Homo sapiens: one gene and its partners. The main gene of each other region encodes a partner of the protein of the gene in region 4 in a complex. Each region holds a gene or a part of one and is shown on either strand. Other genes may lie near its edges. The genes, in order: RB1, TFDP2, CCNA2 and E2F1. A codon is read from its position in the direction of its gene.

What was found.
Region 1: the proteins of E2F1 (region 4) and RB1 are in contact, whole or in part, in a crystal structure (PDB 2AZE), measured with the Homo sapiens proteins. Residues at the interface, in NP_005216.1 of Homo sapiens: Ala267 (codon at 1,085), Pro268 (codon at 1,082), Pro269 (codon at 1,079), Glu270 (codon at 1,076), Thr271 (codon at 1,073), Gln272 (codon at 1,070), Leu273 (codon at 1,067), Gln274 (codon at 1,064), Ala275 (codon at 1,061), Val276 (codon at 1,058), Asp277 (codon at 1,055), Ser279 (codon at 1,049), Glu280 (codon at 1,046), Asn281 (codon at 948), Phe282 (codon at 945); in NP_000312.2 of Homo sapiens: Ser829, Arg830, Ile831, Leu832, Val833, Ser834, Ile835, Phe845, Ile848, Met851, Val852, Asn854, Ser855, Arg857, Val858, Leu859.
Region 2: E2F1 (region 4) and TFDP2 share a complex: the UniProt entries of both Homo sapiens proteins name them as parts of the DRTF1/E2F transcription factor complex.
Region 3: the proteins of E2F1 (region 4) and CCNA2 are in contact, whole or in part, in a crystal structure (PDB 1H24), measured with the Homo sapiens proteins. Residues at the interface, in NP_005216.1 of Homo sapiens: Val88 (codon at 4,034), Lys89 (codon at 4,031), Arg90 (codon at 4,028), Arg91 (codon at 4,025), Leu92 (codon at 4,022), Asp93 (codon at 4,019), Leu94 (codon at 4,016), Glu95 (codon at 4,013); in NP_001228.2 of Homo sapiens: Met210 (codon at 199), Ile213 (codon at 208), Leu214 (codon at 211), Trp217 (codon at 220), Glu220 (codon at 229), Val221 (codon at 232), Glu224 (codon at 241), Arg250 (codon at 319), Gln254 (codon at 331), Tyr280 (codon at 1,371), Ile281 (codon at 1,374), Thr282 (codon at 1,377), Asp283 (codon at 1,380), Thr285 (codon at 1,386).

What each region holds. Positions count from the first base shown.
Region 1 is NC_000013.11:48,306,724-48,313,752, reverse strand, and holds part of RB1 (retinoblastoma-associated protein), read right to left. Parts: intron 6,474-7,029; coding exon 6,347-6,473; intron 1-6,346. UniProt on the Homo sapiens protein: Tumor suppressor that is a key regulator of the G1/S transition of the cell cycle. The hypophosphorylated form binds transcription regulators of the E2F family, preventing transcription of E2F-responsive genes.
Region 2 is NC_000003.12:142,146,525-142,153,990, reverse strand, and holds the start of TFDP2 (transcription factor Dp-2), read left to right. Parts: upstream 1-4,446; 5' UTR 4,447-4,808; exon of another isoform or gene 4,809-4,877; intron 4,878-7,466. UniProt on the Homo sapiens protein: Can stimulate E2F-dependent transcription.
Region 3 is NC_000004.12:121,815,938-121,820,906, reverse strand, and holds the end of CCNA2 (cyclin-A2), read left to right. Parts: intron 1-141; coding exon 142-365; intron 366-1,327; coding exon 1,328-1,535; intron 1,536-1,993; coding exon 1,994-2,107; intron 2,108-2,729; coding exon 2,730-2,863; intron 2,864-3,220; coding exon 3,221-3,269; 3' UTR 3,270-4,050; coding exon of another isoform or gene 4,051-4,135; 3' UTR 4,136-4,459; downstream 4,460-4,969. Other genes in the region: EXOSC9 (exosome complex component RRP45), read right to left, coding at 4,051-4,135, 4,460-4,538, 4,713-4,763. UniProt on the Homo sapiens protein: Cyclin which controls both the G1/S and the G2/M transition phases of the cell cycle. Functions through the formation of specific serine/threonine protein kinase holoenzyme complexes with the cyclin-dependent protein kinases CDK1 or CDK2.
Region 4 is NC_000020.11:33,676,383-33,683,411, forward strand, and holds part of E2F1 (transcription factor E2F1), read right to left. Parts: intron 4,035-7,029; coding exon 3,944-4,034; intron 3,593-3,943; coding exon 3,373-3,592; intron 1,972-3,372; coding exon 1,819-1,971; intron 1,160-1,818; coding exon of another isoform or gene 1,159-1,159; coding exon 1,044-1,158; intron 949-1,043; coding exon 723-948; intron 598-722; coding exon 350-597; 3' UTR 1-349. UniProt on the Homo sapiens protein: Transcription activator that binds DNA cooperatively with DP proteins through the E2 recognition site, 5'-TTTC[CG]CGC-3' found in the promoter region of a number of genes whose products are involved in cell cycle regulation or in DNA replication.

The DNA of each region.
Region 1 (7,029 bases), on a different chromosome or scaffold from region 4:
AAAAAAAGAATAAACATACAGAGCAATGGAATAGAACTGAGACTCCAGAAATAAACCCTGGTTTTTATAGTCAACTGATTTTCATCAAGGGCACCAAAACAATTCAATGAAGAAAGAATAGTCTTTTCCATAAGTGGTGCAGAGACAACTGGATATCCACATTCAAAAGACTGGAGTTAGACCTCTTCCTCACATCATACACAAAAATTAACTCAAAAAAAAAAAACAAAAAAAAACCCAAGACTGACAAGAACTAAAAACCATATGACTTTTAGAAGAAAGCACAGAATAAGTCTTCATGACCTTGGGTTAGTCAAGGCCTTCTTAGATACAACATCAAAAGCCCAAGCAACCAAAAAAAAAACCACCACCAAAAAAAAAATAGAAAACTGGACTTCATCAAAATTAAAATCCTACGCTGCAAATGACATCATCAAGAAAGTGAAAAGGCAACTCACAGAATGGGGGGAAAAGTCTGCAAATAATATATCTTATAAGAGATATGCATAAAGGAGAAGCTTTAACTGCATCTTAAAAACAGAATTTAGGCTAAAAGAAAAAAGAAGGGTATTCCAAAAAAAGGGGAGATCGCATGAATATGAATACTATCATATTCATATGGAAGATATTCATATGGAAGATTCATATGGAAGGGAAGAGAACACAGGCATTGGGGGCCAACAATGGAAATAAAAAATAAGACTGGAAGGAAGGTTAAAGCACAGACCATGAAGAACTACAAATACTGAGAAAGTTTGGACTTTACTTCTTCATAATGGTGGTGGGAGCATGGGAGGGTGTTACAATGGAGGCTACTGAGAGTGGGTTGTAACAATGAAAAATAAATTTTAAAGCAAAAGGGGCAAACTGTACACCAGTCTTTTCTAAAAATCAGGCACAGGATGGATTGGATGGAGAAAAGAAGAGACTAGTCAGAAAGAGGCACTAAAACATGCATAAAAAATGCTCAAGTCAATGACATAAGCTTCCACCTTCTGAAATTAAAAAAATAAAAAGGAAATTAAAACCAAAGCAAACAGTAAAAACCAAGCACTGCTGGTAAAAGAAATGAAGGGACAGACGTGAGAGGCAATGCAAAAAGATAACTTGAGACTGAACGGATAGGTTTAAAATAGAAGGAGTCTGGTATAGTTTTAATTAGTCCTATGGACAGACACTGAATACCAAGGTAAACCTGTAAAGAAAGCAAATGGTAGTGTAAAATTCCACTTCTTCCTAGAATGCAGAAAGCTGCAAAGAGTATTGCTCCCACCCTCACAACAAGAACAAGCCAGATAAGGAACAAAAACAACCTTTCTTGAAATCAACATATCCTTTCCTTATATTTCAGATTATTTAATTTCCCCTAAAAAAAGGAACCTCCAATGAGAGAAAAGATATAAATAATGGCTCATCTGTGGCACAACATGAAAGGAAGAGACACAGGGAACCCTAACAAAAGTAAAAAGTATTCAGCTAAAAATTTTTAATGAATGCTGATTACAAAACAACAAAAATCCATTTAAATATAAAAAAGAAATAGGTTAAAATCAAAATGAAGGTAAACGATACACATTGTAAAGAGTGATCACAAGAAAAGTGGAATCGATATGTGGACACTGCAGAACAAAAGATATAAATTTGGATAAAAAAGCACATTACATAATGATAAAGGTACCAATTTACCTAAAAGGCATAAAAATTCTAAACTTGTATGTACCCAAGGATAAAGCTTTAAAATACACTAATAAAGGCCAGGCACAGTGGCTCACGCCTGTAATGCCAGCACTTTGGGAGGCCGAGGGCAGATCATGAGGTCAGGAGTTCGAGACCAGCCTGACTAACACGGTGAAACCCCGTCTCTACTAAAAATACAAAAATTAGCCGGGTGTGGTGGCGCATGCCTATAATCCCAGCTACTCGGGAGGCTGAGACAGGAGAATCGCTTGGACCCGGGAGGCAGAGGTTGCAGTGAGCCGAGATCGTGCCACGCACTCCAGCCTGGGTGACAGAGCAAGACTCCATCTCAAAATAAAATAAAATAAAAAATACATTAATAAAAAACAGAATTTAAAAGGACCATTCTAATTATAGTTGGAGGCTTCATATTTCTCCCTCAATAATTAGTAAAACACATAGAAAGAAAATCAGTAAGGATATGGATGATCTACTGTACCTTTTCTATGTATAGATATACAAATACTTACCATTGTGTTACAATTGCCTACAATGTTCAGTACAGTAACATGCTGTACACATTTGCAGACTAGGAGCAACATGCTATATACCACACAGCATAGGTGTGTCATAGGCTATACCATCCAGGTTTGTGTAAGTACATGCTATGATGTTCACACAACGATGAAATCACCTAATGATGCATTTCTCAGATGTGTTCCCATTGTTAAGCAACACATGACTGTATTTATTTAAAATATAACCACCATATCACAAAAATAAGTAAGTGGTTCTATCAAGAGCAATATATCCCAAAGCTCTTTGAGATATGTATATCATACATTTCATATACATATATATGTATGTATAACAAAAAGCCTATGAGGTTCACATTCAGGCATTATTTCTGCCTTACAGGTGAGCAAACTGAGACTCACAGAATTAACCAATTTGCCTAAAATCATATAGCTACAATATAATTACAACCAAAGTTTCCTGCCTTGAGGTCCAAGGCATTTTCCATTCTACCATACTACCAATCAAGATGCAGAAAGTAAACCAAAATTCTAACAGCTGATTCACCTTAAGTCACAATATGAACATCACCTTAGCCAATTTCTTAATGGAAAGTCCTATTCATATGCTATAATCAGCATAAATACAATCTAACCTTATGAACAAAGCTAATCTTTATTATTACACTTTACTAAATATTTATTTTAAAAAAAGAAAACACTTTTCTAGACAAAATACCACAAACTTTTCCTTTAAAGGGATTAATATATGCTTTCATGTATGCATAAACAACTTTTCTGATGCTAAAGTACTTAAAAATAAGAATTTTAACAAACATTACTACATCAAAATCACTACAATGCATTTAAAATTGTAACCATTTTAACTGATATCCTAAGTTCTCCTAAAAAAAAATACATCAATGATAAAATTTTCTGGGGTATTTCTTAAGTAAAATTATTCTGTTTGCAAGACCTAATATACATACTCATTGACTCTAATAAGAGCTTTATATGCATTAATTTATTTAATCTGCACATAACTCCAAGATCCAGAAATTACTGTCAGTCCCTTTTACAGGTAAGAAAACTAAGGCTTGAAAATTGTAGATAACATGTTCAAGATAATGGAGTTCGGACATGGTATATCTGTTTGACTCTTAATCCTTGCTCTTAACCCATCCTCTATCCCAATAAACATCACCTACTTTCTATTGTTAAAAAGGGTTTCCTTTTTGACAATATTCCTCCTCTTGTTTCAAAGAAGAGAGACAACTGCCACTAGAATAGCTGCACTGGAAACACATTTATTCTGTCATTACATTTGCTTCTTAGAACACACTGTATCACATTCTCCCTTAGATATTATTATATAAATGAAGGTTAAATTCTCAGGCCAAACCTCAAAAACGTAACTCTAACTTAAAATCATATTTCAAGGAAAAGTCTGTTGATTTACAACAGGACAACAGGACATCATCTTCCATCATACCCTTCAAAAGCACACCTCAAATCCCAAAAATAACATGAAATTCCTTTCTTACCTTCCTCCAGTACCTAGCCATAAATAATTTCACACATCCTAGTCCCCATTATGAGCTCCATTAGGAAATAAGATTCAAACTGGGCCAGTTCCCAGGGAAGGTAGAGACAAAGCCAGGATGAAAAAGGGTAATAAAGCAGTAACATTTGCTTATATATGTATTCAATTCTGAAGCTCAAAAGAGCCTCTACTGTTAAAACTATTATTGTTATAGTTTAGTACAAAAAAAAATAAGTTATGTGAACCAGGCTGGAAACCTAACTACTATATCAAACTTGCAAACAGATTTGGAACACAATGCACTTATAAATTGAAAACTACAGTATGTATATTCACTAATGCTCTTTATAATCAGCTATCCCTTCCAAAATTTCTGAACACTAAAAATCTAGTATTTTAGGAAGAGAAAAGTGAAGGAGCTCTGATCCCATTTAATTGTATATGCACAAAAACAGCTTTGTACATGAGGTACCCAAGTCAGTTAAAATATACATTAGATGCCTGGGGATTATAATACCCAAGTCATACATTCAAGATACTTCAGTATTCCTCTCTTTTTACATAAGAAATGTGAGACTATGTTCAATTCTTTGGAAATCATGACACTTGTTTTCTCCTTTTTACTGCCAGAGATTTTATTTAATGGTTTTAAACAATTTTCTTATGGGACATACATAAACACATTCCGCTGTGTTAATCAGATCAGTAAAAACAGATATATACTCTTATACTACTATGTTGAGAAAGTAAATTCATTAAAAGTATCTGTCTGAAGTGTAATCTAGCAATAATCATCAAGAGTCATAAAAATGTTCATAGCTTTTGATTTAGTAATTCAACTTATAAGAATTTATTCTAATAAAATAATCAGAGATTCATTCATTAATTTATTTAACAAGTTATCAAGGACTCACTTTGTGCCAGGCATTATTCTTACGAATACAAATGTTTATTACATTATTTTATAGCATCAAAAAGTTGGAAAAAACCCAAATATCCAGTAAGAGTTAACAAATTAAAATACATCCACTAGCTAAAATATTATACTATCACTAGAAACTATATTACAAAAAAACTTTAATAAGAAAATGCTCATATGAGAAAAAAACAGGAAAATACAAAACTATGTGTAACTACAGGTAACTATACATAACTACATGTATAATCTCAAATTTATATTTGAGATCTTATTTCCTAGGGACCTTGGTCAAGTTACTCAACCTCACTCTACTCAGTGTCTTCATCTGTTAAATGAACATTTCACATTTTACACATAAAAAAAGATTTTATATTTCATATCTCAATGATTTTTAAATGAGTTATTCGTAGATTTGTAAAGTTCTGGGGTTTTTTTTGTTTTTTTTTTGAGATGGAGTCTTCTCTGTTGCCTAGTCTGGAGTGCAGTGGCATGATCACGGCTCACTGCAAACTCTGCCTCCCAGGTTCAAGCAATTCTCCTGCCTCACCCTCCCAAGTAGCTGAGATTACAGGCATCTGCTACCATGCCTGGCTAATTTTTGTATTTTTAGTAGAGATGGGGTTTCACCATGTTGGCCAGGCTGGTCTAGAACTCCTGACCTCAAGTGATCACCTGCCTGGGCCTCCCAAAGTGCTGGGATTACAGGTTTGAGCCACCACGCCCAGCCTTATTTTTATTTATTTTTTTTTGCAACAGGGTCTTCCTGTGTTGCCCAGGCTGGAGTGCAGTGGTGCGATCTTGGCTTACTGTAACCTCCACCTCCCAGGTTCAAGTGATCGTCCCACCTCAGCCTCCCAAGTAGCTGGGACTATAGGCACACACCACCATGCCCGGCTATGTAAAATTCTTATACTATTGCCCCAGTACATATAAAACTCTAGTAATTATTTGCTCCTTTTATTAAACATATACATCTATACTTACGCAAAGAAAAAATGAAAGGAATATATCAATATATTTTCAAGATCCTGAATTCTAACAAAACTAATTCTGAGTCAGTCAGGAAATCTGAACACTGATTGCATATTAGAAGGTATAAAAATTATTTTATAAGGTATGGCGGTGTTTTTTTAAAAGTCCTTGTATCATAGTGAATAAAATATAACTAAGACCTGCTTTAAAATAGTTTGGTGGGAGGCATTTATGGAGGAATTTTTTTCAAACTTTTTTTTTTTTTGAGACAGACTCTCGCTCTGTTGCCAGGCTGGAGTGCAGTGGCACGATCTCGGCTCACTGTAACCTCCACCTCCTGGGTTCAAGCAATTCTCCTGCCTCAGCTTCCCAAATAGCTGGGACTACAGGCGCACGCCACACCCTGCTAATTTTTTTTTTTTTTTTTGTATTTTAGTAGAGACAGGGTTTCACCATGTTGCCCAGGCTGGTCTCGAACTCCTGAGCTCAGGCAATCCACCTGCCTCAGCCTCCCAAAGTGGTAGGATTACAGGCATGAACCACCGTGCCCGGCCTCAAACATTTTTAATGTTAGCAGAGGTAAATTTCCTCTGGGTAATGGAATTATTATTAGCTTTTATTGTCTTTATATTTTTCTATCTTTCAATTTTTGTATAGTGATTTGAAGTTGTTTTTAAAATGAGAAAAAAAAATTTCAAAACGTTTTAAGAAAATCCTTACCAATACTCCATCCACAGATGAAACTTTCTCCCAAGTTAACCAAGCTCTCTCTCTGACATGATCTGGTATCTTTAATTTCTGACATAATGCAGTAAAATCAGGTTCTTCTGTTTCTTCAAACTCAAGCCTACCAAATGAAAATAATCATATAATTGGCATATACTTATAAATCAAATTGATTCAGTACATACTTGTTTCAATAGTTTGCACATAACACTACTGTGAAAAAGAACATTATTAAATACTTTAAGATCTTATTTTATCTTAGAAAAACATTACACTTCAAATTTAAACATATGATTATCTTTTTCATGGTCATTCCAAAATAAGGATACCACACAGTGAAAAATATTTGCTTGCATGGTAAGTCAAATATACTTCAAAGCAGCAAAACACTTCTGTGAAGGAAAGTAAATGTAATAGCTAAAGCTGTTTGGGAAAATAGGATAAAGATAACAACAAAAAGATAAAAACCCATAGATAATATTATACAATTCAACGCCAGTGACTTTGTTAAACTGTAGTCTTCTCTTATCAATGTTTCATATATCTCTCTACCTACTAGCACATCTTACATGATGCGACTGCTTATTTTTGTCCTTTCCCCTTAACAAAGACAAGCATTTAATAAATTCTTGTTGGCTAATTCATTTTCATTCATCTAATTTCTATGTGTTATCTAC
Region 2 (7,466 bases), on a different chromosome or scaffold from region 4:
ACCAGCTAAGATCTGTGCATTACCAGTTGTTAAATATTTTGACTGTCACCCCTGTTCATAATCTAAGACCCTGTGGAAAATTTCACATGTACAAAGGAGACAGGAATATTCATAGCATCAGAATATGAAAAAAGGTAAAAACTCCCAAATGCCTTTCAGTAAGAGAATGGATTATCTGCCGGGCATGTTGGCTCACATCTGTAATCCCAGCACTATGGGAGGCCAAGGCAGGCGGATCACTTGAGGTCAGGAGTTCGAGACGAGCCTGGCCAACATAGTGAAACCCCGTCTCTACTAAAAATACAAAAATTAGCTGGGATTGGTGGCGCGCACCTGTAATCCCAGCTACTTGGGAGGCTGAGGCAAGAGAATCACTTGAACCTGGGAGGCAGATGTTGCAGTAAGCTGAGATTGCACCACTGCACTCCAACCTAGGCAACAGAGCAAGAGTCTGTCTCAAAATAAAATTAAAAAAAAAATAATAAAATAGAATGGAGTATGTAAATGTTATTTTTGCATTAGTGAAAATGAATGACCACCCATCAAGATAGATGACCCTCTTAAAATGTTGAACAAAAAAAGATTGGCAGATGAATAATAAATTTTATTCTAAATTTATGAAGTTCAAAAACATGAAAAGCTAAGCAATATATTATTTGGATATACATACACGTGTGTTAAGATTATAAAGAAGAACATGGAAATTATACACAGAATTTAAGATGTTATTTTGGAAAGGGAAAGTTGTGGGGACACACTGGTAGGGGGCACATGAGGTTTCAATGGTGTTAATAATATGTTGCTTAAGCAGGTACATGAGGGTTTATCATGATTCCTCATATCTCACATTTACTTTATATTTTTTAGGGTGAATAAAATATTTTATCCTAAAAATATTTTAGGTTTGATATTAAGGGGTTACTTTTATTAAGGGTGACTTTGAAACCTTTCTACTGCTCTAATGCAGTCATTCCAGAAAACTGGGGAGAGGTTGAATCCCTCCCTGAGGAAATTCCGAGGCTTCGCCTCTACTCTGTCCTATTAAGGTGATTAAACTGTACATAACAGGATTGTCTCTAGAAGCAAGACCCAGATTTAACACTTATAAGTGTTATTTCTTTTGTCAGTCACTAGATGGATTTGGTGTGAAAAGAAGATGCTTTAAAAAAAAATCTGAAACTGTTCTGACAACTGCAGATCTTTTCATGTGATAAAAGGTGTCACTAAGGACCTTCTTACTCCAAGTGTGATTTTTGGCTGCTGAGGCAGCACCAGCATCACTTGGAAGCCTGTTGGAGATGCAGAATTGAAGCCACACCTTACAGACTGAATTGTAAGATTCCCTAAGTGATTACTGTGCACCTCAAGGTTTGAGAGGCAGTGGTCCAGGAGTCTGGTACTTCCACCTGCAAAAGCAGTATCCAGTGCCAGCAGAGGGGGCAGCACGTGGAAATGCCTCAGGTTTAACTGTAATGGACCCGTCTTTTTCACAACCCTCTTTGTGTTGGCTATTCTGTGGCCCGCATATTTCTAAATAGAGTAGACTTTATTATACCTCTCTCCTCTTTCCAAATTTGCTGGGCTGTGGACTCTCATCTATTCAATAAAAACATTGAACTTCCATTAAGCACTGAGGAGATGATAGTGAATAGAATGATATGACTTTGACTCTAGAAGCTTACAGTCTAATGGGATGCAGGTAGCAAGTGAGTAATTACAAGTTTAATGAATGTTGGAAAGTCAAAGAAAATTTTATGGGAAAACAGTTGGAGATGGGGACTCCGGGGAAGCTTTTCTGGAGAAAGTGTTGTTTAAGTTTAGATGAAAAGGCATGTGCAGGTGAGTTGTGGGTGAACTGGGGGATTGTTCCAAGCATAAGGAATGCCAATGAATGGTGCTCTTTGGACATCTGTTTGTATTGCCAGTGCCTTGCATAGTTCTTGGCATACAATAAGTGCTTAATAAATGTTTGCAGAATCAATAAATGTTCTGTCACATTTCAGATGTCTACTCTCTGGCATTGGAGATGGTGGAAACTTTATTTTCCTTTTCAAAGGAAATAAGATCCCTTAATGGGGAAATAAGAAAGAAAGCTGACTGTTGTGCAAATTGCTAAATTGGAACTATGAGTGGGAATGAAAAATTGATTTACATGAATTTTCTTCCCTGTAGCAACTTGACAATTTATTCTGTTCTGGAGAATTCTCAGTTTTTGGCTTAAAAACCAAGCTGTTCCTCCTTATTCTGAATTTCTTGGCCTGCTGTGAAACTAACATTTACTGTCTTTTACAACATGCCCTGATTAGGTCATGGAAATTCACAACTAAATCAAACTAGGATATGGAAAATTTGAAACTTTCACTGCCCATTTTATGTAATGGCGTTGGAAGGTGTTATAAAACATTGACTTTTAAATCTTTATTTTCAAAAGCTATATTATACGATGAATATAATAATTGCCATCATTTATTGAACACTTACTACATGCATTACATAGCAAAATCCTCATACTACCTCTGCAAGAGAGTAAGTTGAACCATATGAAAATTGCCCAATATCAGCAATTTCATGTGGTTCAACCTAGTATCTTCAGACTCTGACCTATAAAGAGGTTAGGGAATCCCTCATAGCCATAACTTCACTCCAAATTTAGTACTGAATCTTTTAGTACTATCTTTTATAGATAAAGAGATCCTAAGATAGTTACAGCTCCTCTATGACAGCGACCCCTTTCCCTACATTAGCCCAAGCACTTTGTGTGTGTACTTCCATCATGGTTATTTACGCATTGAATTGAGGTGGTTTACAATCCATTTCCTCTGCTACACTGAGTTCCTTGAGGGTGGATGTTTTGTCTGTCTTGCTCATTTTTGTATACGTAGTACCTAGAGTGAAAAGTATTTGTTGAATATAACTTTAAGTTTTCTTAAAGTTATATTTTTTGTGGAAACTAAATTTTTATTGATTTGTTACTGGAGAATGTGAAGTAATCACTGGGGTTTTTGCATTTTAGAATCAGTCAGTGGAGTACTGCATTTGACATTCTTGGACTCTCAGGACTAGTTACATGCAATTATGCATACAATTGTCTCTCCACCCTGCCCCAGAGAAAGATCTGAAAGTGCTCTCTTACCTATCTCATCTCCTTTAGGCATTTGCTTAAATACCACCTTCTCCGTGCTACCTTCCCAGATCACTCTATTTAGGACTGAAGCCATTCCTCCAACACCTCTGCTTATATTTTTTTCCCATAGCACACATACCAGCATGTAATATAGTTTTTGTTTTACGTATTCTTTTGCATATTATCTTTCCCATCCTGCTAGAATGTAAGCTCCATGAAGGCAGGAGTTTTTGTCTCTATTTTGTCCACTGATGTCTCCCCATATCAAGAATAGTGTTTGGGGCCGGGCGTGGTGGCTCACGCCTGTAATCCCACCACTTTGGGAGGCCCAGGCGGGAGGATCTCTTGAGTCCAGGAGTTCCAAACCAGCCTGGGAAACATGGCGAAACAGCCGGGTGTGGTGGCGCGGGCCTGTAGTCCCAGCTACTCGGGAGGCTGTGGTGGTAGGATCACCTGAGACTGGGAAGTCAGGGCTCCAATGAGCCGTGATCCTGCCACCGCACTCCAGCCTCGGTGAGAGCAAGACCCCGTCTCAAAAACAAACAAAGTGGCATATAGAAGATCTATAAGATTTGACTGGAGTAAAATGAGAAAGATCTAATCGTTTTAATGCGCTGTTCACACGGGGTTTTTAACTTCGGCACGAACGAATGAACAAAATCTTTTCATATGGAACCAAGTGTACGGGTATTTGGGGTGTGTGCAGTTTCCGCGGGACAGAATGACCTGTCCTGGTTTGGGTATTAACTTGCCTTGATATTGAAGAACCTCCACATTCCCAGTGGTCTCTAACTCATTGTCTGAATAATTTCAAGGTGTCCCACAGTTGGCCCCACGCATAGCCTCAATCACGATCACTCGCCCCCCTGTCCCTTATTGATGCTCCCCCAGGGCGACCCCGCAAAGGCCTGGGGACCGAATGGAACTGCCCCAGTCCCCCTCCTTCCAAGAGAGCTGGGGTTTTCTGGCTTCGGGGTCAGTTGGAAAAGAGATTCCCACCCAAGTCGCAGGGTGGGAGTAGGGGGGATGAGATAGGAGTGATGAAGGAAGTGTGTCTAAAATTCTAGGCCTCAGGCCCGCAGCTGTCCCTGGAGGCGGCGGGGAAGCGGGGTGGTCGGGTCCTGCGGAGGGCTCCCAGGGAGGCCACAGGGGGAACCAAGGGGCGGTGGCTGAGTGCACGAGTCCCGCCCCTCCATCTGTTGGCCCCCTACTCTCAAAGGGAAGCCTGGGGGCGGGGTTTGTTTACTCCGTGCACGCACTGCCGGCCCGGCCAATCCGTGGGGAGCGGCGCCAGGCGTCGCACATTCTGAGGGCCAATCGGCGCGCACTGTGCTGCTCCGCCGCCAAAGCTCGCGCGGGGGAAGCGGGGCTGTAGCTGGGCAGGGAGAGGGCGGACGAAATCGGTAGCGATCTCGGCTGCGGCGCTGCCGCAGCTGCCCGGCCCGCGGGGCGCGCCCTGACCCTTCATCTTTGGGCAGGCTCGAGGGCGCGCGCACGGTTGGCGTTCTGGGGCCTCAAACTCCTGGGCCTTGACCGGGCAGGCCGCGTCTCCCCGGGTGTGAGTCCACCGGGACCCGGCCGCCGCCTAAGCGCGGGCGCCACAGAAGCGGCGGCGCCCGAAGACGCGCTCCTGGCTCGGCCCGACAGCCTCGCTTGGCCGCCAGTTCTTCTGCAGCCGAAGGCGGTAAGGTCTGGGGCGAGGGCGCGGGCCCGCGCGCGGAGGGCCTTTGGACCCGGCCGGGCGCGTTCCTGGGTAGGTTTCCCTCCCTGCGCACAGGGGCCCCCTTGTTCCCCCACGAGTCCCATCTGTTTAGACCTGGGTTCTCCAGGCCTGGCCGGGTAACCCGTGAGTGTCTGGGCCAGAGTCGAAAGCAGAGGAGGGTCACCCTCTTAGTGCATAGAGCAAATCGGGGGAGGTAACGTCCCTGAGTCACGCCTCGTGGAAGAGGGGAAGGGCTGCTTTCTACTTTCTCGTTCTCTTCAAAGAAGGATGGCTTCTAAATCTGGTTTTCCGATTTTTCCCTTCTCCTTTCATGACTCACAGGCCTCTGTGTCCACCAGGTGTTTTGTTTGTTTTTAAAGAGTTTCTAAGCTTTGTGTGCTTGGAAGAACCTCATATGCCCCATAAAGGAACTTTTCTCTGAAGTAGAGGATCGCTTTTTGGGCCCAGACTCCTTTGAGAAAATCTGGAAAGCCAAGGTCTGTCTTCACAAAGAAGTGTAAGGGTTTTCCTAGGATCTCGCTGAGAGACAGTACAACGAAGTGGATGAGCGCCCCAGTCTCTCTTACCAGCCTGTGCTATCTCCCATTGTGTGATCTCGGTTTCTTCATCTGTAAATTAGATGCATCCACCTATTCGGTGTGTTTCGGGGAGTGAATGGACTAATGTATGGAATGCAATCGTAAGAAAATCCTCCACGTATTAAATGCCTTGCATTAGTTAGGCACTTTTATTATTGACTGCCATGGATGCTGGTTTAGAAAAAGACCCTATATTATTTCCCTTTTAGTGTTGAGACAGTGAACGGGCTCATTCCTTTTCCATATTCACTGCTGAAGCTGCCTTTGAGCCCATGAATACTTTTATCTTTTCCTCATTCCATCTCAGAGGGCACAGACTCCCTCTCACTTATTTGCTTTCTTTCAGTAAGGCTCTCTTTTAGCTCAGCCTTCTCCTTCCCCTGTCTCCCCGAGATCTGAGTTTTGTGTCTTTTCATTTGACTTGCACAACCTACTTTTTTTTTTTTCTGGGCCATGTGTTTTCTCTTCATGGCTTGAATTTATCTTCACCTAATAAATAATTTACCTGTTTTTTTTTTCAGCTCGTGAATATATATTCATCTATTTTCTATATGGCATAATCATGTCCCTGTCTCTCTTTAAAAGTAGATATAAAAATAGTTTAATTGATCTATATTGCAGCTTCCTTTTCCATTTCATTGTTTAGCCTGTTATTTAGCTAAACTTTATCACTATCAGATTACTGTAATTAATCTTTAATGGCAGTGTCCATTCTCAGACAGCACCAGGAGAAAAATCAAATGCCTAGACCCCAGATTCTGTCACACTTGTGTACTGGCTCTGGATGTGTTTGTTATTTATTAGAACATCTTGTGCCTGTAACTAGTCTAGTCTAAGAGTAGACATGGTGTCTGTAGCGTTGTTCTGGCTGTGCAGTTGCAGTTTGAGCACTGTGGCCCTTACATTTGTTAATAAAAGGTTCAAGACTTACTAAACTCTTACTTTTCAGTTCTCTTCATTTCTAGGTGTTTAAAAAGGAAAGCTGAATTTTTGCAGTGTGTAATACTTCATATTCTCATTTTGTGATCATGTAATTCCTCCCACCCTGACTCTTGTGAATGTGTAGTCCAAGTGGCACATGGAAGTTTTTCTCTGGCAGCTAAAATTCTTAACTGTCTGAGCCGTGTGCCCTCAATATAACTGATGAAGTGGGATGTACTTCCTTGTCATCATCTTTTAAACTCTTATTGCAATATGTGTTATAATGGATCTCAGAAGAAACTAGAAGGCATAGATTGAGAGTTCTTTTAGATCATAGAATTTTAAATTGTAGTGGATTTTAAAGAGAATCAAATACACTCACCTCTTCATACTTAAATCCTTTCCGTTTTAATCTGGGATACATGACTCTAGGTGTGCGGCATGAATAGATATGAAAGTAGGCTTGTGAACTCTTGGAAATATTATGCAAAATTATGCATATTTGTATATTTTTTGGAGAGACTATTTATAGTGTCATAGTTTCTGAGGCAAAGATATTTGATCAATTCTTTTTTTTTTTTTTTTTGAGACAGGGTTTCTCTATGTTGCTCAGGCTTGTCTGGAACTCCTGGGCTCAAGTGATCCTCCCACCTCACCCTCCCAAGTAGCTGGGGTTATAGGCACACACCTCGCCATGTTTGGACAACTCTAATTTTTATAAAATTATTTCTTTCACTGAACTAGAAATTGTGTCCTCACTGTCTCTTCTGTATTGTGGGTTTTCAACTATTTGAAGATACTTATATTCCACTGAGTGTTAGAAAATATTCTCAGTCTTTAACCTCTGCTAGTGACTTTTGTGTCATTGTTTTCATTCACATCTCCTCACAGAACTCATAGCCCACTTGTGGATTTGTTTAGTTCATCCACATTCTTCTGACAAGCATGGTACCCCAAATTAGGTATTAACTAGTATAGAAGACTAAGTTACCTCTCTAATTTTAAAGCATGTACTTTAAGAGTAGACTTGCTTCTTTGGCAACCACATTACACTGTTACTTTATAATAATTTACTAGTTAAGAAGATTAACTTTGGGGCTAACCTTCCTGTGTTTAGATC
Region 3 (4,969 bases), on a different chromosome or scaffold from region 4:
TTTAAATTTTTAAACTAATGAATTATTCTAATGCTACAGTTAAGTTTATAGCATGTAGCCTCTCGTAATTAATGGTAAAATAATCTAATTGCAGTTTTTACACTAGAATAATTTTAACACTATAAATAATTTTCTCAATAGGTTAAATGTAAACCTAAAGTGGGTTACATGAAGAAACAGCCAGACATCACTAACAGTATGAGAGCTATCCTCGTGGACTGGTTAGTTGAAGTAGGAGAAGAATATAAACTACAGAATGAGACCCTGCATTTGGCTGTGAACTACATTGATAGGTTCCTGTCTTCCATGTCAGTGCTGAGAGGAAAACTTCAGCTTGTGGGCACTGCTGCTATGCTGTTAGCCTCGTAAGTCTACCTTGGTTTGTTTAAAAGTGATCACGACCTTTTGTCTAGGGAAGAAATTGATTTTTTTAATGGTGACCTTTTAACATACACCAGGCAGAGTCAGTGACTACTTTAGGGATGGCAATGTGCTGGGGCTTAGGGCAGTGGAGGAGGATGAAACTGTTCTAATCTAGAACACTAATTTTCCCCCAACTGGATTCCTTGAACATGATATAGTACACTAGGTTACAAATTTTAAAACATTTTCCTTCCAATATTACTTTCTGGCATATAAGCAGTGTCTCTTTTATTAAGAAGTAAAGGCTGGGTGCGGTGGCTCGCGCCTGTAATCCCAGCACTTTGGGAGGCCGAGGTGGGCGGATCACTTGAGGTCAGGAGTTTGAGACCAGCCTGGCCATCATGGCGAAACCCTGTCTCTACTAAAAATACAAAAATTAGCTGGGCATGGTGATGCATGCCTGTAATCTCAGCTACTAGGGAGGCTGAGGCAAGAGAATCGCTTGAACCCAGGAGGTGGAAGTTGCAGCGAGCTAAGATTGCACCACTGCACTCTGGCCTGGGCGACAGAGCAAGACTCTTGTCTCAAAAAAAAAAAAAAAAAAGAAAGAAAAACTAAATTTAAAAATGAAAACATGAAACATGTTTTCCTAAGACTTGTATTTCCTAAATTTTCAGCTACTTGGTGAACTCTGGCATTGTTCCCATCTCGAGAAGTCTCATGCCTTTCATTTACTTCCTTTGACTGAACTGGGGAAAATATCTCAAAAGTCCTTTATTGATTTGGGCCTTTTAATTAGCAATTAGCTATCCAGTCTCTACTAGAAATGATGATCAAGTGTCTGGAAATGCAGTTGGTGTGGATTTTGGATTCATTCCATATTCTGCTAATGGGATTTCAGAACTGGGATAAGGAAGCTTGCTTCTCTTTTAGGACTGATTACTTAAAACTTTTTTCATTGTAGAAAGTTTGAAGAAATATACCCCCCAGAAGTAGCAGAGTTTGTGTACATTACAGATGATACCTACACCAAGAAACAAGTTCTGAGAATGGAGCATCTAGTTTTGAAAGTCCTTACTTTTGACTTAGCTGCTCCAACAGTAAATCAGTTTCTTACCCAATACTTTCTGCATCAGCAGCCTGCAAACTGCAAAGTTGAAAGTTTAGCAATGGTGAGTTAACTTTCATTTTGTTGAATGGTGATTCTTTGGTAATAATTAGGGGTAAGCCCTAATTCCTTTGTAAAGGAACCTAGTTCCTTTGTACAGCAGTGGTGAAGAGATTTAGTATTCAGAGGGAGATTAATGCTGCAGTATGGAAGAAAGCCTACTGCTGGCAAAAGATAATCTATATCAGGAAAGCACTAGAAGCAGAGGTCTAAGGATGACATCTTGGGGATGGGTAGTCAGAAGAGTTGTTTTTTAAAAGTTAATAAAGGAGGGAAAATACAGGATGAGGATGGAACAAAACACTAAAATGATTGATATGTTTAAAGATGAGGCTGTGAGATATTTTTTCTAGAGTTGCTACAGAGCCGTTATCAAAGGCAGGAAAAAATTAGGTTAGAAGGCAGAGGTTTGACATTTGAATTCTAAACGCTCTTGTGATCATAAAGTATTTTTTATTCCAGTTTTTGGGAGAATTAAGTTTGATAGATGCTGACCCATACCTCAAGTATTTGCCATCAGTTATTGCTGGAGCTGCCTTTCATTTAGCACTCTACACAGTCACGGGACAAAGCTGGGTATGTATTACGGTCTTCACACACCTATCTTGTGACTGAAATGCCTGTGCCAGATTAAATAATAATTGTCCTACAAAACTGAGGGTTGCCTAGATGTTCTTACTTGGAAAAACTTCAAATATATATAGTTGACCTTTGAAAAACACAGGTTTGAACTGTGTGAGTCCACTTACACATGGATTTTTTTCCAATCAAATGTGGACTGAAACTACAGTATTCAGGGGATTCACAACCCATATATATGGAAGGGTGACTGCAGGACTTGAATATGTACAGATTTGGGTATATTTGGGAAGGGTCCTGGAACCAATCCCTCATGTACACTGAGGGATGATTATATACTGTTTAAGGCATGTTACCTGTTGAACAGTGTTTGTTAGGTAGTAAGCTTAGTTGTAACTTGGATTGAAAGGTGAGCTTTTTTAAAAGCATCTGACCTGTTGCTGGCAGGGAAAGTAGTAGAAAATGGATCGAGGGATGGAATAATGGCCTGAGAAAACTAGTAGTTGGAAAAGTTAAAGATTAGTACTGGAATTTAACATAAGCTTAATGCCAACTATTTACTGTGTTTGGTGTGTTACTAAAAGCAAAACTCAGGGGTTCTCTATTCCCTTCTCTGTAGCCTGAATCATTAATACGAAAGACTGGATATACCCTGGAAAGTCTTAAGCCTTGTCTCATGGACCTTCACCAGACCTACCTCAAAGCACCACAGCATGCACAACAGTCAATAAGAGAAAAGTACAAAAATTCAAAGTAAGAATTAACTTGGATATTGAAGCTTACTTTTCTAGATTATGGTTCAGAGATCTTTGACATTTTAACCTTATTCATGAATCTGCCATAGCCTCCTTGAGAAGCTGTTCTCTAAATTGGTTATGTGTTTGAAGAAGGTTGTAGTTCATGCTTTCTGCCCTGGGTCTGGGGGAGAAGAGAGAAGGAAGGGGGCATGCATGTGTGTTTCAGGGACCAGACAGTGTTTCTAAAACCATCAAGTCGGTCAGACAGAAATAGCATTTTTTAGTTCCCAATACATGAGTACAAACATTATTCCATGATCTCCTTTACCCAGTGAGTGTTTACTAAAAATGCTTTTTTTTTCCCTACTTACAGGTATCATGGTGTTTCTCTCCTCAACCCACCAGAGACACTAAATCTGTAACAATGAAAGACTGCCTTTGTTTTCTAAGATGTAAATCACTCAAAGTATATGGTGTACAGTTTTTAACTTAGGTTTTAATTTTACAATCATTTCTGAATACAGAAGTTGTGGCCAAGTACAAATTATGGTATCTATTACTTTTTAAATGGTTTTAATTTGTATATCTTTTGTATATGTATCTGTCTTAGATATTTGGCTAATTTTAAGTGGTTTTGTTAAAGTATTAATGATGCCAGCTGTCAGGATAATAAATTGATTTGGAAAACTTTGCAAGTCAAATTTAACTTCTTCAGGATTTTGCTTAGTAAAGAAGTTTACTTGGTTTACTATATAATGGGAAGTGAAAAGCCTTCCTCTAAAATTAAAGTAGGTTTAGGAAAACAGACCCTCAAATTCTGACATTCATTTTCCTAAGCAACTGGATCAATTTGCTGACTTGGGCATAATCTAATCTAAGCATATCTGAATACAGTATTCAGAGATAGATACAGTAGAGATTCCCCAGACTTTTTCGCTCTTTGTAAAACCTGTTTGTTTAGGTTTTGCGAGGTAAACTCAACAGAGGTTGGGAGTGGAAGAGGGTGGGAAGCTTATATGCAAATTAACAGACGAGAAATGCTCCAGAAGGTTTATTATTTTAAAGCACATTAAAAACAAAAAACTATTTTTAAAATCCTGCTAGATTTTATAATGGATTTGTGAATAAAAAATACCCAGGGTTCTCAGAATGGAATAAATATCCCTTTTAATAGTTATATATACAGATATACAACTGTTAGCTTTAATTGGCAGCTCTCTTCTTTTTTCTTCTTTTCACTGGCTTTTTACTTGGTGCTTTTTCTTGTTTTGCACTGGTGGTCTGTGTTCTGTGAATAAAGCAAAGTAAGAATTTACTAAGAGTATGTTAAGTTTTGGATTATTGAAATAAGAGGCATTTCTTAGTTTTCCAGTAGGATCTAAAATGTGTCAGCTATGAGTAAGACTGGCATCCAAGAAGTTTATATTATAGATTTAGGTCCTAATTTTTATAAATCACAAGGTAAAAAAATCACAGAACAGATGGATCTCTAATGAAAAAGGGATGTCTTTTTGTTTATAGTCATGTGGCAAGATGAGAGTAAAACCAGAGAGCAAACCTCTATAAGTGTTGAGTATATGTATACATTTGAAATAAACCAGAAATTTGTTACCTTATTTTCTTTGGATTCTTGTCTGGTTCCAAAATGATCATTTCTTCTTCTTCACTATCTGAGAGTATTATGGGAGCATCTTTGTTTTTTTATTAATTTAAAAAAAAAAAAAAAAGTTAAGCAATCTCTTGCAAAATTTATTTCTACATGAATTTATTTCTATCAGACGTTCTAAACTCTTATTTCTGGGGCTGGGCGTGGTGGCTCACACTTTTAATACCCACATTTTGGTAGGCTGAGGCAGGTGGATTACCTGAGGTCAGGAACTCGAGTCCAGTCTGGCCAACATGGTGAAACCCCAGCTCTATTAAAAATAATAGAAAAATTAGCCAGGCGTGGTGGCATGTGCTTGTAGGCCCAGCTACTCGAGGCTGAGGCATGAGAATCGCTTGAACCCATGGAGGTGGAGGTTGCAGTGCCACTGCACTCCAGTCTGGGTGACAGAGCAAGACTCCATCCCAAAAAATAAAAATAAAACTCTAGGTGGAGGCTTAATCTTTTCTTTAAATC
Region 4 (7,029 bases):
ACACACATGTGGACACACTGGGGCGTGTCTGCAGTGCACACACAGAGGTGTATGTTCACCTTCATTCCCCGGTACATGCACACACACATGCTCACACACATTCACCCCCGGTACACACGTGTGGGTGTAGGCTGCATGCACATACACACCACACAGACTCCTTCCCTTCCTGGCTTGCTCAGCCTCCTAGCGGTAGCCAGACCCCAGAGCTAGAAGCTTCTGGAGACAGAGGAGAGGGGTATAAATTAAATGTTTCCAAACAGGCTGGGAGGACGGCCAGGGACAGGGGGCTCCAGGGCTGCAGAGACAAGGTGAGCATCTCTGGAAACCCTGGTCCCTCCAAGCCCTGTCAGAAATCCAGGGGGGTGAGGTCCCCAAAGTCACAGTCGAAGAGGTCTCTGATGCCCTCGCCCTCCTCGAGGCCGAAGTGGTAGTCGAGGGCCTCGTGGGGTGGGGAAAGGCTGATGAACTCCTCAGGGAGGAGGCCGGAGAAGTCCTCCCGCACATGCTCCAGGAGCGAGTCGGCCGCCACCAGCGGGGACAGGCGGTCCTCGTCCACGGGAGCCCGCAGGCTGCCCATCCGGGACAACAGCGGTTCTGGGGAGACGGGGAGCATCACAGGCCGGGGATGCCCCAGCAGGGAGGAAGGCAGGGGCTGTCGTGCCTGCCCACCCCCCAGAAGAGGGGCCCTGCCCCACCCCACCCACCTACCCATCACCCACCTTGCTCCAGGCTGAGTAGAGACTGGCTGGGATCTGTGGTGAGGGATGAGGGGGGAGATGATGGTGGTGGTGACACTATGGTGGCAGAGTCAGTGGCCCTGTTCTCCTCCTCAGAAGTGACCTCCTGGGATGGGGTCTTCCCAGGGCTGATCCCACCTACGGTCTCCTCAGGGCACAGGAAAACATCGATCGGGCCTTGTTTGCTCTTAAGGGAGATCTGAAAGTTCTGGGTGGAAGCAGCAGGCAGGGTAAACTGAGGCCCAGGTGACCACCAGCCCAGCCCAGCCCAGCCCAGTTGGGCCCGGAGTTCCCAGATCTCACCTCCGAAGAGTCCACGGCTTGGAGCTGGGTCTCAGGAGGGGCTTTGATCACCATAACCATCTGCTCTGCAGGGTCTGCAATGCTACGAAGGTCCTGACACGTCACGTAGGCCAGGGTTGGCAGAGTCAAGGACCACATGACCTTTGACTTCTAGGGGGTCACTCACTCCAACAGCTCACAAGGCAGGGCTCACACCTGCCTAGTCACTCCTGTCCTCCCAACCTCCTACCCACTCAAAACCTACCTCACGCCTGAGTTTCAAGTTCCACATCTGTATAATGAAATCACTCTACCCATTGAATCCCAAGGTAATAATGGCTACCGGGAACGATTCCATGTAAAATGTTCAACACAACTCCAGGCCTGGTGCTGGGAATTTATTTTTTAGAGGCAGGGTCTCGCTATGTCACCCAGGCTGGAGTGATGTGGCTCAACCAGAGCTCACTGCAGCCTCAAACTCCTGGGCTCAAGTGATCCTCCCACCTCAGCCTCTTGAAGCACTAGGATTACAGGCATGAACCACCGCACCTAGCCACTTTTCTTTTTTAATCTGTACAATTTCAGAATTGGATATTATTATTCCCCTTTTATAGATAAAACTGAGGCCAAGAGGTTAAGCAATTTATCCAGTGTCACAACAGTGAGAAAATGCTGAGCCAGGACTTGCAACCAAAATCAGAGCTCTCTCTTAAATCCAAGCCTCTCTAGTCCCACTTGGGTGGAGCCCCTGCCTGCTAAGCCTGCCTTCCACACCCTACGGCCAATCCAAGGATATCGCTGGCTGTCAGTGTCCTCGGAGAGCAGGCGCAGCTGCGTAGTACAGATATTCATCAGGTGGTCCAGCTGCTGCTCGCTCTCCTGCAGCTGTCGGAGGTCCTGGGTCAACCCCTCAAGCCGTCCGCCGACGCCCACTGTGGTGTGGCTGCCCCTGTGGGGAGGCACCAGGGAGGGTAGGGTTAACAGCGATTGGCCCCTCTGGCCAGGAGCCCTGGGCCTCAGGACAGAGTCTGCTGTTGCCTCTGTTCTGTGAGGCCTAGGCAAGCCCTTGCTTCTGTCTGGGTCTGGCTCCTCAGCTGGGCTCCAAATCAGAGTGTCATGGGCTTGAAGTCTGGCCCGAATATAAACACCTACATGTCCCTCAACCAGGGCGGGATAAACAAATGATGGGACTGACATGCCACGAAATATTACACATGCACACACACATGCATTTCCAAGACATGCTGTCAAATGAAAAAAAAAAAAAGGCTGGGCTTGGTGGCTTATACCTATAATCCCAGCACTTTGGGGGGCTGAGGCCAGAGGATTGCTTGAGCCTCAGGAGTTTGAGACCAGCCTGGGCAACACAGTGAGACTCTGCCTCTACACAAAATCAAAGACATTAGCCAGACATGGTGGCATGTACTTGTAGTCCTAGCTACAGGTACGGAGCTTGAGCCCAGGAGGTTGAGGCTGCAGTGAGCTGTATTTGTGCCTCCATACTCCAGCCTGGGCGACAGAGCAACACCCTGTCTCAAACCACCCCCCTCCACCCAAAAAACCACAAAAGATGCAGAATGGAACGATCTACCAAAAAATGAAACGGCAGGTGTATCAAAGAAAGGGTAGTAGCATGATGACTGGCGCGAAGGCGAGAGGGGGAAAATAAAACAAGAATAAAATATCTATGCCAGACAGATCTCACCGAGGGCATGAGAAGCCAGGATAGTGGTGACCTGGCGGTGTGAGGGGTTGGCAATGACTGGAAAGGGGCACAAGAGAACCTTCTAGGGTGTTGAAAATGCTCTTATCTTGATCTGAATGGTGGCAACCCAGATGAATAAATATATAAAGCTGCGCGGGGCGCAGTGGCTCATGCCTGTAATCCCAGCACTTTGGGAGGCTGAGGCAGGCAGATCACCTGAGATCAGGAGTTCGAGACCAGACTGGCCAACATGGTGAAACCCCATTTCTACTACAAATACAAAAAGTAGCTGGGCATGGTGGCAGGCGCCTGTATCCCCAGCTATTCAGGAGGCTGAGGCAGGAGAAGCACCTGAACCTGGGAGGTAGAGGTTACAGTGAGCTGAGATTACACCACTGCACTCCAGCCTGGGTGACAGAGTGAAACTCCATCTAAAAAAGAAAAAAGTAAAGCTGCAACTGAGGTGGATATGTAAGATTTGTGTGCTTTTTACCATCTATCATCTCAGGGAAGCTACCTCTCCTCTCTGAGCCCGTTTCCCCAGCTATAAGATGGGGATGCAGGCAGCCACAGTGGGTATTACTACCAGCTCCTCCAGGCTGGCATGGGCAGGTGTGCCTGCCCTCCTGTGTGGCCGGTACCTACAGCCACTGGATGTGGTTCTTGGACTTCTTGGCAATGAGCTGGATGCCCTCAAGGACGTTGGTGATGTCATAGATGCGCCGCTTCTGCACCTTCAGCACCTCGGCAGCCCAGTTCAGGTCGACGACACCGTCAGCCGAGTGGCTCAGCAGCTCCAGGAAGCGCTTGGTGGTCAGATTCAGTGAGGTCTCATAGCGTGACTTCTCCCCCGGGGATTTCACACCTGTGGGGGTGTGGTCAGGCAAGACAGGGCCCTTCAGCATCCACCCCCACCTCCAGCCAGGCCTGCCACTCTGGCAGTGCAGGGCAGCAGGATGATGGGGGCTGGGGGACAGCCAGCTCCTTCCCCTTGGCGAGGCCAACCACAGCATTCTTCTTCTGGCTGGGGAACTCCTCACCCCTCAGGGCCTGGAGAAACCAAGCCAGGTGGCCACTCCAACTGCCCATCAGGGTCCTCAGAGGCCTGGCTCAAGCCCGACAAGCCAGACGTTAGCTTGCAAGCATGTTTGTCTGTTCACATCCCTAACCTGGGCCTGGTCACAGGGGGTCTGCCCAGCCCAAGCTCCATAGGTACCTTTTCCTGGATGGCGGCCTCTGCCCCGAGCTGGCCCACTGCTCTCGGCCAGGTACTGATGGTCAGTTTCCAGGTCCAGCCTCCGCTTCACCTGTGGCGAAAACGGGAGGATGCCCAGTAACCAGGAGTGAGGCCAGAAGAGACCTGGCTTAAGGCTGGGTGCCTCTGGGCTACCCTCGCCTCAGTTTCTCTAGCAGGATGCCTGAGTGTGTGACTGAGGGAGATCAGAGGGGACATAGCCTGAGAGTCACAGTCCTACCACACAGGACATTCCATTTTCACCACTTCTCTGGGGTCTAGCGGTGGATTTAAAACACATCCGCAAACTTTCTGATCCTTCTCCTTCAAAAGATATAGCCTAATTCTCCCCTTATGAGCCAGACCTGGTAACTTGCTTCTGGGGATGAATGAATGGAATGTGGTGGAAGGGATGGCCTGTCACTTTTGAGACTGGGTCAGAGGCGCTGGAGCTTCCTCCTTGCTCTGTATTGGGTCACTTACTCTGCCATATCATATGGGCACTCAAGTAGCCCTAATGATGGGCAAGAAACCATGGCCTCCTCCCAACAGCAACACTTAGTCACAACTTCTGTTAGCAGCCAGAACCCAAACACTGGCTGAATCTCCAGAGACCCCAAGCCAGAGCTGGATAAGTCTTCCCTGAATTCCTGACCCACAAAAACTATATAATAAATGTTTGTTGTTTTAAGGCACTATTTTTTTTTCTTTTTTAGACAGGGTATCGCTCTGTTGACTATGCTGGAGTGCAGTGGTATGATCACAACTCTCTGCAGCCTAGACTTCCTGGGCTCAAGCAATCCTCCCACCTCAGCCTTCCAAACAGCTGGGACCACAGGCGCATCCCTCCAAGACCAGCTAACTTTTCTATTTCTCGTAGAGATGGGGTCTCCCTATGTTGCCCAGACTGGTCTCAAACTCCTAGGCTCAAGCAATTCTCCCATCTCAGCCTTCACTGTAGTCGTGCTGGGACTAGTCAGCCACCATGCCCAGCTAAGCCACTGATTACATAGGTCCCTTGGCTAAATCACCTTCTCTCTGGTTTTTGACTAATCTATACGCATGGTAGCAGCTGGTGCTCATCAAGTTCCTTGCATCCATTAGTTCATTCCATTCAACGGACTGGCTGTATAAAAATGGCCCCATTTTCCAGATAAGGCAACTAAAGCCCAGGGAGGCCCAGGAAGTGGTAGAGTCAGGATTTGTACCCAAGACGGTCTGAGGAAGAACCCAAGCTCTAAGCACTCTGGCTTAGTTCAGACACTCCAGGATTGGGACTGTCCTGGAGGTCTCACAGGCTGCTCAAAAGTACCCGGACCAAAACCAGACTGATCTTCCCCTCCACCATCCACAGGGTTTCCTGAGCTAGAGTTCCTGACCTGTCACCCTCCTCACATGCAGCTACCAAGAACTGCTCATCACCACGGCGATCACCACCTTCCCAGTGGGCTGCTGAGCAGACTCCACACTGGTCTCCCTGCCTCTGCTGCAGCCAGTCCTCCTACAAACCTTACCATGCCGCCGCCCCTGCTTAAGGCCTTCCTCCAGCTCCCCATTGCCTTTGTACTCTCATCTGCCACTGCTTCTCTAGAGGAACCCGAGTCACGTTTTCCCAGAAATCTAGACTGCCCTTGCATCCCTCCCACCCTCCCCACTTCACGCCTGCTCCCTCTACCTCTGTGGGCAGAAACCTTACGCATCAGCTAGGAGGTGTCACCTCTTCTCCCTCTGAACTGCCTCAAACCCAACCTTTTGCCACATTCTGTCTCTCCCTACACATTTCTGCAGATGTATCTATCTCACCCTCAGAGGTGTCTGAATCACTTGAGAATCTATAGTGTCTGCCATGGAGCCTGGCATCAACAAATGTTTGCTGAATGAACCCCCCCCATGCTGATGAACCACTCCCTCTTGTGCACATTCACTGACTTTTGAAGGCACCCAGGGGAAAGAAGAGCTGTTGTGCTCTAAGCACTGTGTACTCAACTGCTTCCCCTGCAACCCTCCGGCCACCTTTTGGCAGGTGCTATGATGGCCTCCACCTGAGAGAGGCCACACAGTGAGAGGTGGACCCAGGACTTGCACCCTAGTTGGCTGGTACAGAGCCCACACTCATACCCGCCACGTGCCCCACCTCCCCAGAACCCAGCCAGAATGTATCCCCCTCCATACTCGCCCCTGGGGCCCAAACCCTAGCATGCTTCTGCCATCTGCACCCCTTGCCTTCTCCCTGGGATCCCCACCCTTGTCCACCCCTGAAGGCAGGTCAGTGCCACGCCCTAAAACAAAGGCTTGAGTGGATGCCATTTCTGCCACTTCTCCCTAGATAAACACTGGCAGAGGGGCCCCGAAACGCAGGGGTGAAGACATTCACTGCTGAAAAAATCTGGATGACTCGAACACCCATCCATGAAGGGGGTCACGAAAGCTGTGCTTTGTTTAGCCCCTTGAACACCACGCAGCTGTCAAGGACCGAGGCAGGTTGACAAGAATCCCCTCACACATACAGACAAGCAAAACACTGTCACAGGGCGATATATTTATATGATCCCTTTTGGATTAAAAAGCTCATGAAACTTTTCTCTGGTTCAGTTTATATTATTATAGAATACATTTCGGGGCAGCCTCTGGAAGGACTGTGGGAGACCAGTGCCATATCTGAATGGTGTGAATGATACAGGAAAAACTACAATTTTTAAAACTTTAAAAAACAAAAACTGTCACAACCACCACAAACAAAAATAGCCTTAGGGAAAAAAAGGAAAAAAATGAATAGGGCTGGGATCCTGCCGTCAACTTTCTAGTTTCTTAAGAGTTAAGTTTTTGGCCAGGCGCAGTGGCTCACGCCTGTAATCCTGGCACTTTGGGAGGCCGAGGCGGGCAGATCACTTGAGGTCAGGAGTTCAAGACCAGCCTGACCAATATGGTGAAACCTCATCTCTACCAAAAATACAAAAATTAGCCGGGTATGGTGGTGCACGTCTGTAGTCCCAGCTACTCGGGAGGCTGAGGCAGAAGAATCGCTTGAACCCAGGAGGTAGAGGTTGCGGTGAGCCGAGATGGCGCCA